Linked DNA regions of Homo sapiens: region 1 is linked to region 2. Evidence: fine-mapped expression QTL. A gene starts in region 2. The other region holds a variant in brackets. All regions are shown on one strand. Distances are between the middles of the regions.

Evidence for each region. PIP is the estimated chance that this variant, and not a neighbour inherited with it, causes the effect.
Region 1: its variant is the best candidate, but not a certain one, in a credible set for the expression of ANKRD52 in whole blood (TOPMed, PIP 0.61).

What each region holds. Positions count from the first base shown.
Region 1 is chr12:56,230,485-56,235,850 of GRCh38, forward strand. SLC39A5 (solute carrier family 39 member 5) reads left to right here. Exons shown (of 13, transcript NM_173596.3): 3 at 347-389; 4 at 720-1,077; 5 at 2,205-2,388; 6 at 4,340-4,502; 7 at 4,673-4,842; 8 at 5,076-5,216. The coding sequence starts at 791. Among named protein-coding and RNA genes, the nearest start is that of SLC39A5, 3.1 kb to the left of the region's middle. The variant A/G (reference allele first, on the strand shown) is at 3,351.
Region 2 is chr12:56,255,525-56,260,890 of GRCh38, forward strand. It overlaps ANKRD52 (ankyrin repeat domain 52), which reads right to left and starts at 2,860. Exons shown (of 28, transcript NM_173595.4): 1 at 2,719-2,860; 2 at 2,304-2,387; 3 at 1,759-1,837; 4 at 1,491-1,561; 5 at 260-460. The coding sequence starts at 2,745. RefSeq lists enhancers at 870-1,862, 2,169-2,218, 2,299-2,348 and silencers at 2,409-2,478, 2,499-3,048, 3,059-3,118.

The sequences.
Region 1 (5,366 bases), 25 kb before region 2:
AAGGGCTAAAATGGTACTAATGGTGTTAAGGATAGGGTGAATTATTTAAGAGGAAAAAGACTAGGCCCAGGTTCTCCTTAGCCATGTGGCTTTCCCAGGGCAGAGGGTGGCCCCTCCCTACCCAGGGGCCCAGCAGAGACTGACTTTTGATCCCTACCCCAGAGACCAGTGAACCATTAACTCCTCTCTTATGTGAGCCTTCACACACTGGCCCCACCCCTGACCCCGCCCCAAGGCAGGTGGGCTAGGAGGGGGTGCATGTCCATCTCAGCCTTCTATGTGACGTGGCCTCCGATCCACCTGGACACCTGGAGGCTAAGCCTGGATTCCCCCTTCCCTGACTCAGGAACTGCTTAACGTCTACAGCAAGGCCTAATAGGGGACCTGAGGTGACAGCTCTTATGTTGCCAGTAGGGGTGAGGCCCTGGGGATTGAGGGGGGATAAAGAGGTGGGGCAAAGTTGAGGGGTGGGGTTTAGGGGACAAGGAATGGACGGTCAGCTCTGGATGAAGTATGAGGAGAGCTCTGACTCAGGGAGGTGCTCCAGGAACCAGCAAACAAGAGGCTGCTCCCGCAGGAGGCAGTGTGAAGGGAGAAAGAAGGCTGCAGTAGGGGCTGCTGCTGGACTCGGTGGGGAGCAGGTGCAAGGAGCTCTGGCTCCCCCATGGACCTGAGCTGGAGAGCAGAGCGCAGCTCCAGCCCATTCCTCATTCTTCCAGGGCACAGTCCTCAGGATGTTTCGGGGAGAATAGGAGCCAGAACCTGAGCCCCTAAGCTATTCCCCTCACCAATGATGGGGTCCCCAGTGAGTCATCTGCTGGCCGGCTTCTGTGTGTGGGTCGTCTTGGGCTGGGTAGGGGGCTCAGTCCCCAACCTGGGCCCTGCTGAGCAGGAGCAGAACCATTACCTGGCCCAGCTGTTTGGCCTGTACGGCGAGAATGGGACGCTGACTGCAGGGGGCTTGGCGCGGCTTCTCCACAGCCTGGGGCTAGGCCGAGTTCAGGGGCTTCGCCTGGGACAGCATGGGCCTCTGACTGGACGGGCTGCATCCCCAGCTGCAGACAATTCCACACACAGGTACTGACCCCTTCCTCCACTCCACAGGGCCACATCTCCCAGGTCCTCTCAGTGCTTGCCCCCAGTTGCCTCGTTCTGGCTTCCTCACGAGATCCCTGGAGTTACAAATTCTTCAGAACCGAGCTCCTTGGTATCTCTTCAAAACCTCTCATGCTTCTATTGCCTTCTCTCTCTTTTCTTGAGACTGGGGGTCTCGCTTTGTCACCCAGGCTAAAGTGCAGTGACACATTCACGGCTCACTGCAACCTCTGCTTCCCAGGCTGAAGCCATCCTCCCACCTCAGCCTCCTGAGCAGCTGGGACCATAGGCACACACCACCACAGCCGGCTAATTTTAAAAATTTTTTACAGAGACAAGGGTTTCGCTGTGTTGCCCAGGCTGGTCTCAAACTCCTGGGCTCAGCTCAGCGATCTGCCTGCCTCAGCTTCCCAAAGTGCTGGGACTACAGATGTGAACTACCACCCTAGCCCTCCGTTGCCTTCTAATTCTCTCCTCCTCCAAATCTCTAAGCCCTTAAATTTCTTGCTCTTAGTATCACTGTTCAGTGTCTCTGGGCTGATTTGGCTCCAAATTCGTAGACTTCTTTTTTCTTTTCTTTTCTTTTTTTTTTTTTTTTTTTTTTGAGACAGAGTCTCGCTCTGTCGCCCAGGCTGGAGTGCAGTGGTGTGATCTTGGCTCACTGTAACCTCTGCCTCCCCGGTTCAAGCGATTCTCCTGCCTCGGCCTCCTGAGTAGCTGGGATTACAGGCACACACCACCACGCCGGGCTAATTTTTGCAATTTTAGTAGAGACGGGGTTTCACCATTTTGGTCAGGCTGGTCTCGAACTTCCAACCTCAGGTGATCCACCCACCTCAGCCTCCCAAAGTGCTGGGATTACAGGCGTGAGCCACCGTGCCCAGCCATTCGTAGCCCTTTTGGTTGTCGTCCTTTTTTTTCTGTCCCCCCCAGTGGCAGAAAATGGACAACTCACAGATCTTCCTAAGAATGACATTCCATGGTTTCTGGGTCCCAGGATCTCCAGTCAGTGGCTAGTCCCCCCATTCCCCCTAAAATCCCTGGGAGCCTCTCAAAGCGGGTTGATAGAGAACACAAGGGAGGCTGACTTGCTGTCTCATCCATTCCAGGCCACAGAACCCTGAGCTGAGTGTGGATGTCTGGGCAGGGATGCCTCTGGGTCCCTCAGGGTGGGGTGACCTGGAAGAGTCAAAGGCCCCTCACCTACCCCGTGGGCCAGCCCCCTCGGGCCTGGACCTCCTTCACAGGCTTCTGTTGCTGGACCACTCATTGGCTGACCACCTGAATGAGGATGTGAGTCTGACGGTCTCTAGAGGGGAAGGAGCCATGGGATTAGATGGCCTGAAATGTTTAAATAATCAGTAGTTTTTTGTTTTGTTTTGTTTTTAAATCCCAACGTGGACCAAGCGTGGTGGCTCACGCCTGTAATCCCAACACTTTGGGAGGCCGAGGTGGGTGGATCACCTGAGGTCAGGAGTTCGAGACCAGCCTGGCCAACATGGTGAAACCCCATCTCTACTAAAAAATACAAAAATTAGCCGGGTGTGGTAACAGGTGTGTGTAATCCTAGCTACTCAGGAGGCTGAGGTGAGAAAATTGCTTGAACTTGGGAGGCAGAGGTTGCAGTGAGCCAAGATGGCACCATTTGCACTCCAGCCTGGGCAACAAGAGGGAGACTCTGTCTCAAAAAAAAAAAAAAAAAAAAAAAAAAAAAAAAAAAAATAGCTGGGCGTGGTGGCACATGCCTATAATCCCAGTTACTCGGAAGGCTGAGGCAGGAAAATCACTTGAACCCAGGAGGCGGAGATTGCAGTCAGCCGAGATTGCACCACTGCACTCCAGCCTGGGTAACACAGCGAGACTCTGTCTCAAAAATGAAAATAAAAAAAATAAAAAAATAAAAAAAAAATATCTCACTGTGGTCTTAGGGGATGTTATTTCAATAGTGAACTATGTTCCCTCTGGGATCAGAGCAGGTGAGCCCATATCCAGAGCTCCAAGACTCAGTTTAGGGGAATAGATGGCAAAGCAGAGAATCTAGAGAAGCAGCCCAGGGTAGGATCTGGATGGTCACCTGGAGAGGAGACCTGCAGGGAATGGATGGCTGTCTTCATCCAGAAAGACAGAGAATATATTCCACTTACACCAGAGGGCAGACAAAGCTGCCTAACCCTGATGGAGGTCCAGTGAGTGCCCATTGCAGGAAGCATTCAAGCTGAGGCTGGATGAACATCGACAGGGCTGTTGAGAGGGAG[A/G]TTAGATGGCATTTCAGGGTCTTTTCCCTTTTAAGATTCTGGCATGGAGAGCTCTAGTTTTCCAACCAGCTTCATTTATCAAATCAACAAAATGATTGAAATGATCAGAGTTTGCAGGGAAGATGATGACAATGCTCACTAGCACCCAGTTTGCATCAAATTGAATACCTGCATTGGACTGAATATTCACTAATAATACACATTGATTATAAGTACCCTTGGCCCTAGTCCCCAAGGTACCTGCCAGTAGGAGCAAAGGGGACCCTGGGAGAGACCCAGGAGTCTATGCAATGGAAGGACAGGTGTTAAATATATATATATATATTTTTTTGAGGTAGAGTCTGACTCTGTCACCCAGGCTGGAGTGCAATGGCGTGATCTTGGCTCACTGCAACCTCCACCTCCTGGGTTAAAGCAATTCTCCTGCCTCAGCCTCCCGAGTAGCTGGGATTATAGGTGTTCACTACTATCCCCAGCTAATTTTTTTTTTTTTTTTTTGAGATGGAGTCTCACTCTGTCGCCCAGGCTGGAGTGCACTGGTGCAATCTCGGCTCACTGCAACCTCTGCCTCCTGGGTTCAAGCGATTCTCCTGTCTCAGCCTCCTGAGTAGCTGGGATCACAGGTGCACGCCACCATGCCCAGCTAATTTTTTGTATTTTAGTAGAGACAGGGTTTCACCATGTTGCCCAGGCTGGTCTCGAACTCCTGAGCTCAGGCAATCTACCCACCTCAGCCTCCCAAAGTGCTGGGATTACAGGCGTGAGCCACCGCACCCGGCTCATCCCCAGCTAATTTTTGTATTTTTAGTAGAGACAGGGTTTCACTATGTTGGCCAGGTTGGTCTCAAACTCCTGACCTCAGATGATACACCCGCCTGGGCCTCTCAAGGGCTGGGATTATAGGTGTGAGCCACTACACCTGGCCAGGTGTTAAAGATCTGAGTCATAGTTCCTGGTGATTCTCCAATGTATGACCCTCAATTCTCCAGTGTCTGAACGGCTCCCAGCTGCTGGTCAATTTTGGCTTGAGCCCCGCTGCTCCTCTGACCCCTCGTCAGTTTGCTCTGCTGTGCCCAGCCCTGCTTTATCAGATCGACAGCCGCGTCTGCATCGGCGCTCCGGCCCCTGCACCCCCAGGGGATCTACTATCTGGTCAGCAAGTAGGAGTGGGTGGGGGACACCCTGAATCCTGGAAGTGGGGCCCATGCCAAAAAGGAGGCTCACTGGGGTCCTGCCTCTCCTTGTAGTGTTCTCTCTGCTCCACCTTACGTGTGGGACCCTCCTCTTGCCCTGACCTAACTTCAGCCCCTGATTCTCCCCAGCCCTGCTTCAGAGTGCCCTGGCAGTCCTGTTGCTCAGCCTCCCTTCTCCCCTATCCCTGCTGCTGCTGCGGCTCCTGGGACCTCGTCTACTACGGCCCTTGCTGGGCTTCCTGGGGGCCCTGGCGGTGGGCACTCTTTGTGGGGATGCACTGCTACATCTGCTACCGCATGTATGTGAAGCCCCTTCCTTGTACCCCTGGCCTCCATGGATCTAAGGTGTCCCCAGCCATAGGACATCCCCTCCGCCTTTCCATCAGCTCCCATATCCTACTCCCAGATCCTGGCTTCAGCCCACAGCTGCCTTCTAGTAGAGCATATGAGCGAAGGCTTGCCACAATCCATGCAAGGGGATGTTGTTGGGTATAGGGGCTTCCAGAGTCTGCCCTGACCTTCTCTCTGTCAGGCACAAGAAGGGCGGCACGCAGGACCTGGCGGACTACCAGAGAAGGACCTGGGCCCGGGGCTGTCAGTGCTCGGAGGCCTCTTCCTGCTCTTTGTGCTGGAGAACATGCTGGGGCTTTTGCGGCACCGAGGGCTCAGGCCAGTGAGTGATACCCTTTTCTCCTCCTTCTGCTGAGACCAGAGTCCCAGTCAAGAACTGGGCCAGGCCGGGCGCGGTGGCTCACGCCTGTAATCCCAGCACTTTGGGAGCCCAAGGCGGGCAGATCACAAGGTTAGGAGTTCGAGTCCAGCC
Region 2 (5,366 bases):
TGAAAGACATGGACTCTCTTCAGAAAGGCGTGTATGCAAATATTTTCCACGCAAAATCCAAGGTTTTATCAACCTCCTGAAGTCCAAGTTAAGAATTTTAATCTAGTCTGACCATTCATTTAGTGCTTCAGCTTAAGTGTTTATATAACCATCCGGGCTGCTTCTCCTTCAGGCTTGAGGGCCCAGAAGCAGGGAAACGTGAGTAGGAAGGTAAGAAAAGGGAAAGCCCCAGCTGGGCCTGGATGGGAACAGTCCTCACCTCAAGATGCCCACTATGCACTGCATGGTGCAGAGCACTGCGCCCGCTCCTGTCAGCCACGTTGAGGCTGCTCAACAGGGGTGCCAGAGCCTCAGCACACTTGGTGGCCCGGTTGGCAGCAGCCACATGCAGTGGTGTCTGCCACAGCTTGTCCCGGGCATTCACATCTGCTGAATGTGCCAGCAGCAGCCCCAGCACCTTCTGTTGAGGGGCAGGGGACAAAAGAGAGAGTGGGAGCAGGAGGTAAAACAACAGGAAATGGAAGGAGGAATAGGTCAGCATAGCATCTACAGCCCCTTCCCCAGCACAGAATCTCTTCTCATTTTTCCAACATACCTAGCCTCTGAATACCTACTTTCCATCTTCTGGATCTTCTTAGAACTTAAGCTCTTCCTTACCTTGCTGATTAAAACAAGGACCCTTTGCTCTTCTTCAAGCCACCTGACTCGCCAACTTAGACCCTGAAAATCTTCACTCACACATACATCCATTCCCAAACAAATCCACATGTGGAGATCCACACATCCCAACCCCCTACTACTTCTAGGAAAACTAAATGCTCTTGCTACATCTTGCCCTGAACACCCTCTTTAGCCTTCTCATAGGCACCAAAATTATTTTCAGTATCTCAGTAAGCAAACAGATACTGGTTCGTTTGCAAAACCCGAGCTAAAATGCCCCTCCTAACCACCACCCACCTCATTCCCACTGGCCTCGGCCCCTCCCCCTGGTGGCTGGAGCCAGGGAAGTGATGAACTGAGGAGGAGGTCCCCCTTTCCCTGTCTTCAGGGCTGATGGGAATAGGATAAAGGACCCAACTGATGAAATATGTTTGGCCCCTGTGCTGTCAACTTTCAAGCTGCTTGAGGGCCAAGGATGCAACAGATTACTATACCCATCCTCCATCACAAGGAAAAGAAATCTCAGTGCCCAGAGGGGGATCAGACTCAAGGTGGCCCCCCAGGGAGGGATGAGTCACTCAGGCCTGGCAGCAGGGCCCCCGCAGTCTGCCAGCCCAGTGTTAAGCTCTTCCTGAGTCACATCAGCTGGCAGCACTCAACCCCCTTACTGGCCAGTTCTAGGGGTAGGAGGAAGGGGCCAAGATTTGATCTCCTCACTACCTGGGGTAGAACAGCTTGTAGGGCTGAGGACTGAGGCTCCTTAACCCTTAACCCCCACCTTTAAGCAACTTATCCTTTTTGAAAGGGTAATAGAAGGTGGGGGTGCATACCTCGTTTCGGGAGGCAGCAGCACGATGAAGAGGGGTCAGCCACAGTGTGTCCTTAGCATTGACATTAGCACCTGTGGGGATATAATTTCCTATTTTGATGGAAGGTGGGGAGGAGGTATGAAGGAAGCCAGTAATCAGGCCAGGAAATCTGAATGGAGCTGGAGCCTCGCCTGGACCAAGCCGGGGAGAGCAATCCTTGAATATCAAAAAAGACTCCTCCCCTCCCTTCGCTCCCTATGTGCCACACCTTCCAGCTCCCCACTTTCACCTGACATCAGTAGCAACTGGAGGATGGGGACATCGCCTACGTAGGCAGCAGCATGCAATGGAGTTCGCCTCTCTTGGTCCTGGGAAGGCAAAAAAGAGCAGGGAGTATGGGCGCGGGGTAAGGGGGCTATCAAGGACCCCAGCCCAAGTCTCAGAGCTCCAGGCCCTTCCCCACAACCTCTTCCCATAGTTTCTGCAGCGTCCTAAGTCCCGGTATTGGGAGTCAAAGGCAAGCACCTAGGGAGGGTGGAGTCAGGGCCAATGGGCTGAGAAGCCGGCTCCTTTTTCCAGGAGGGGTGGGGGCGCTGCAGACTCCGGAGGTTGAGAAGAGAACAACGTTCCTGGGCATTCCCAGCCCAAGTGATCTGGGCTTCAAGCCTGACCTGCTCTCCATCCCCAAATGCAGAGTAGGCTTTCACTCCAGGATGGAAAGAACTGCGGCCTCATCTGAGCAGAGGAGACACGGAGCCGCCCCACCGGTGGGGAGGGGTCCAGAACACGGGAGCCAGGATTCCGGTCTCGCCATCCTCCCTGCTCCCAACTCACCAGCACATTGATGTTCTCCTTCTGCGAGAGTAGGGAACGCACTTCCTCCACATCTCGGCTAAAGATGGCCTGGACCAGGGGCGGCTGCAGAGAGAACCGGCATTCTGAGAGCGGGCTGGAGCCGGAGCGGAACCGGTGTGGGGGTGGGGGTGGGGGAGCACCTAGGTTTGAGTGGGGGGCGTCCGTGGAGGGGCTCCACTCTAGGGATTCTGGCTGGAGCGAGCTCCCGCGGTGCCTCCGCCGGTTGCCAGGTCCCCAAGGACACCGGCTCGGTTGAGGGGAGCGCGGCATGGGGCGGGGCGGGAGCTGCGGGAGCCCCGGGCTCAGGCCCAGCCTAGGCCGCACATCCCCGGGCTCGCGTGACGGCAGCGCCGAGCCCTGGAAGGAGGAAGCGGGAAAGGGCAGGAGGGCTGACCTGGTCCGTGATGCTGAGGATCCCCATGGCTCGGCCCGGGCTCCGTCCGCATCGAGCTCCCGGCGGCGGCGGCGGCGGCTCCACCGGGGACACGGAGCGGCCCAGGCGGCGGCTGCGGTGGCGGCTGCAGGGAGAGCGCGGCCCCGCCTACCGGGGGGCGGGCGAGTTGGAGGCCGCAGCGCTCCCTGGCGGCCGTCCTGGTCCCGGCGCTCCCCGCGCAAACGGACCCCGGCCGCAGCGCCCTCCGCCCCACCCTGGCGGCCCCAGCAGCCCCTGCACCCCCGAACTCGCGCGCCGGCTCCCCGGCTCACGCAGCTGGCCGCGCTGTGCTCTCCGCTCCAGTCTGGCGGCCCAAGGGGTTCCCCACAAGACCCTAGCGGAAACCTGGGCCTTAGTCCCGCGGTGCTTCCCAAACTGAGGACCGAACGGCTGGCCAGATCTTACCCAGCCCACAATGCTCCCGCCCGAGCTAACTCCTCCCGTCAGCGATTCCACACCCCGAAATCCCCCACAGACTAGGAGGAACTGGCGGGTGGAGAACTGGGAATTATGTATGGCAATAGCCCCAGAGGGAGGGAAAGCGTGTATCTCCACTGGCGGAGGCGTGAGTTCGGTAGAGAAGAAATAGCAAAAGTGCTCAAACTGCAGAGAAACCCCAAGGAGGATTCTACTGCAGAAAACACCCACAAAGAGGCCATGACAACTGGCAGCTGGAAAAGGCCGCCAAGACCAACAGAAGGGGCATTTTCCAACTCCTTACTGATTCCATTGCAAGGTTAAAGTGGAAAACACTCAACAATTTCTCCCCAGAACAGCCTGTGGCGCTTCCCCTCCTCCAATGGAGAGGCCAGAGAGCCGTCAATTAGAGAAGAAATGAATGGAGGTCATCTCAACCCAGAAACGGAAAAAGGAGGAAGACGAAAAGTGGAGATTGAAAAATTGATACAATTTATAAAAGGTGATCCAGGGTCCTGTTCAGAGTTTCACAACTCAATACACATTGAAGAGAACACGAAATGGACGAAGTGCAGCATGCTGGCGTCCTGTCAAGGCTTTATATATAAAAATCCTCCCTTGAGGGGAGAGGAAAAAAATTAAAAAATAAAAATACATTTTATTTTATTTTTTGAGATGGAGTTTCACTCTCGTCCCCCAGGCTGGAGTGCAGTGGCACGATCTCGGCTCACTGCAACCTCCGCCTCCCGGGTTCAGTGATTATCCTGTCTCAGACTACCAAGTAGCTGAGACTACAGGCGCCCGCCACCCTGCCCGGCTAATTTTTTATTTTAGTAGAGACGGGGGTTTCACCATGTTGGTCAGGCTGGTCTCGAACTCCTGACCTCAGGTGATCCACCTGCCACGGCATCCCAAAGAGCTGGGATTACCGGCGTGAGCCACCGCACCCGGCGAAAATACATTTCAAAAAAGCCTTCCCGGCCGGGCGCGGTGGCTCACGCCTGTAATCCCAGCACTTTGGGAGTCCGAGGCGGGTGGATCACGAGGTCAGGAGATCGAGACCATCCTGGCTAACACAGCGAAACCCCGTCTCTACTAAAATACAAAAATCAGCCGGGCAGGGTGGCGGGCGCCTGTAGTCCCAGCTGCTTGGGAGGCTGAGGCAGGAGAATGGCGTGAACCCGGGAGGTGGAGCTTGCAGTGAGCCGAGATTGCGCCACTGCACTCCAGCCTGGGCGACAGAGCGAGACTCCGTCTCAAAAAAAAAAAAAAAAAAAAAAAAAAAAAGCCTTCCCATTCCCAACATGGTGAAACCCCATCTCTACCAAAAATATAAAAAAGTAGCCTGGTGTGGTGGTGCACGCCTGTAATCCCAGCTACTGGAGAGGCTGAGGCAGGAGAATCACTTGAACCAAGGAGGCGGAGGTTGCAGTGAGCCGAGATGGAGCCACTGCTCTCCAGCCTGGGTGACAGAGCCAGACTCCATGTCAAAAAAAAAAAAAAAAAAAAAAAGCCTTCCCTTGCTTTCCTGCTAGAAAGATACTTAAGACACTAGTAACAGTCCTTTTTTCCCAGAAAGAAAAACTGGGGTACAGGAAATAAGGAATGAGAGAGAAATTTACCTATCACTATATACCTTTTGGAATTTTTTAAATTTTTACCATATTGAAAATAAAAGTTAAAATATTGCTTAGGAGCAATCACTCCGTGATTCCATGCACACACAAAAATTATGAAGAAATTTAAACTTACCTCTTCCAGGAAGTCTCCTCTGGCTAATAGGCTCTTTTCCTTTTGTTAGTTCTCCTTAACACTTACATACTTAGTTTATACTGCCACAATCTGGTTAAATTGTACACCTTTGTTTCTCATTTCACCTTTTTTTTTGGAGACCAGTGTCGCTCTGTCGCCGCCCAGGCTGGAGTGCTGTGGCGGGATCTCGGCTCACTGCAAGCTCCGCCTCTGGGGTTCATGCCATTCTCCTGCCTCAGCCTCCCCAGTAGCTGGGACTACAGGTGCTGCCACCATGCCCGGCTAACTTTGAGTAGAGATGGGGTTTCACCATGTTAGCCAGGAGGTTTCAATCTCCTGACCTCGTGATCCGCCCGCCTCGGCCTCCCAAAGTGCTGGGATTACAGGCGTGAGCCACCGTGCCCAGCCAGGTATAGTTTTTTTTAAGCTCCAGAATATCA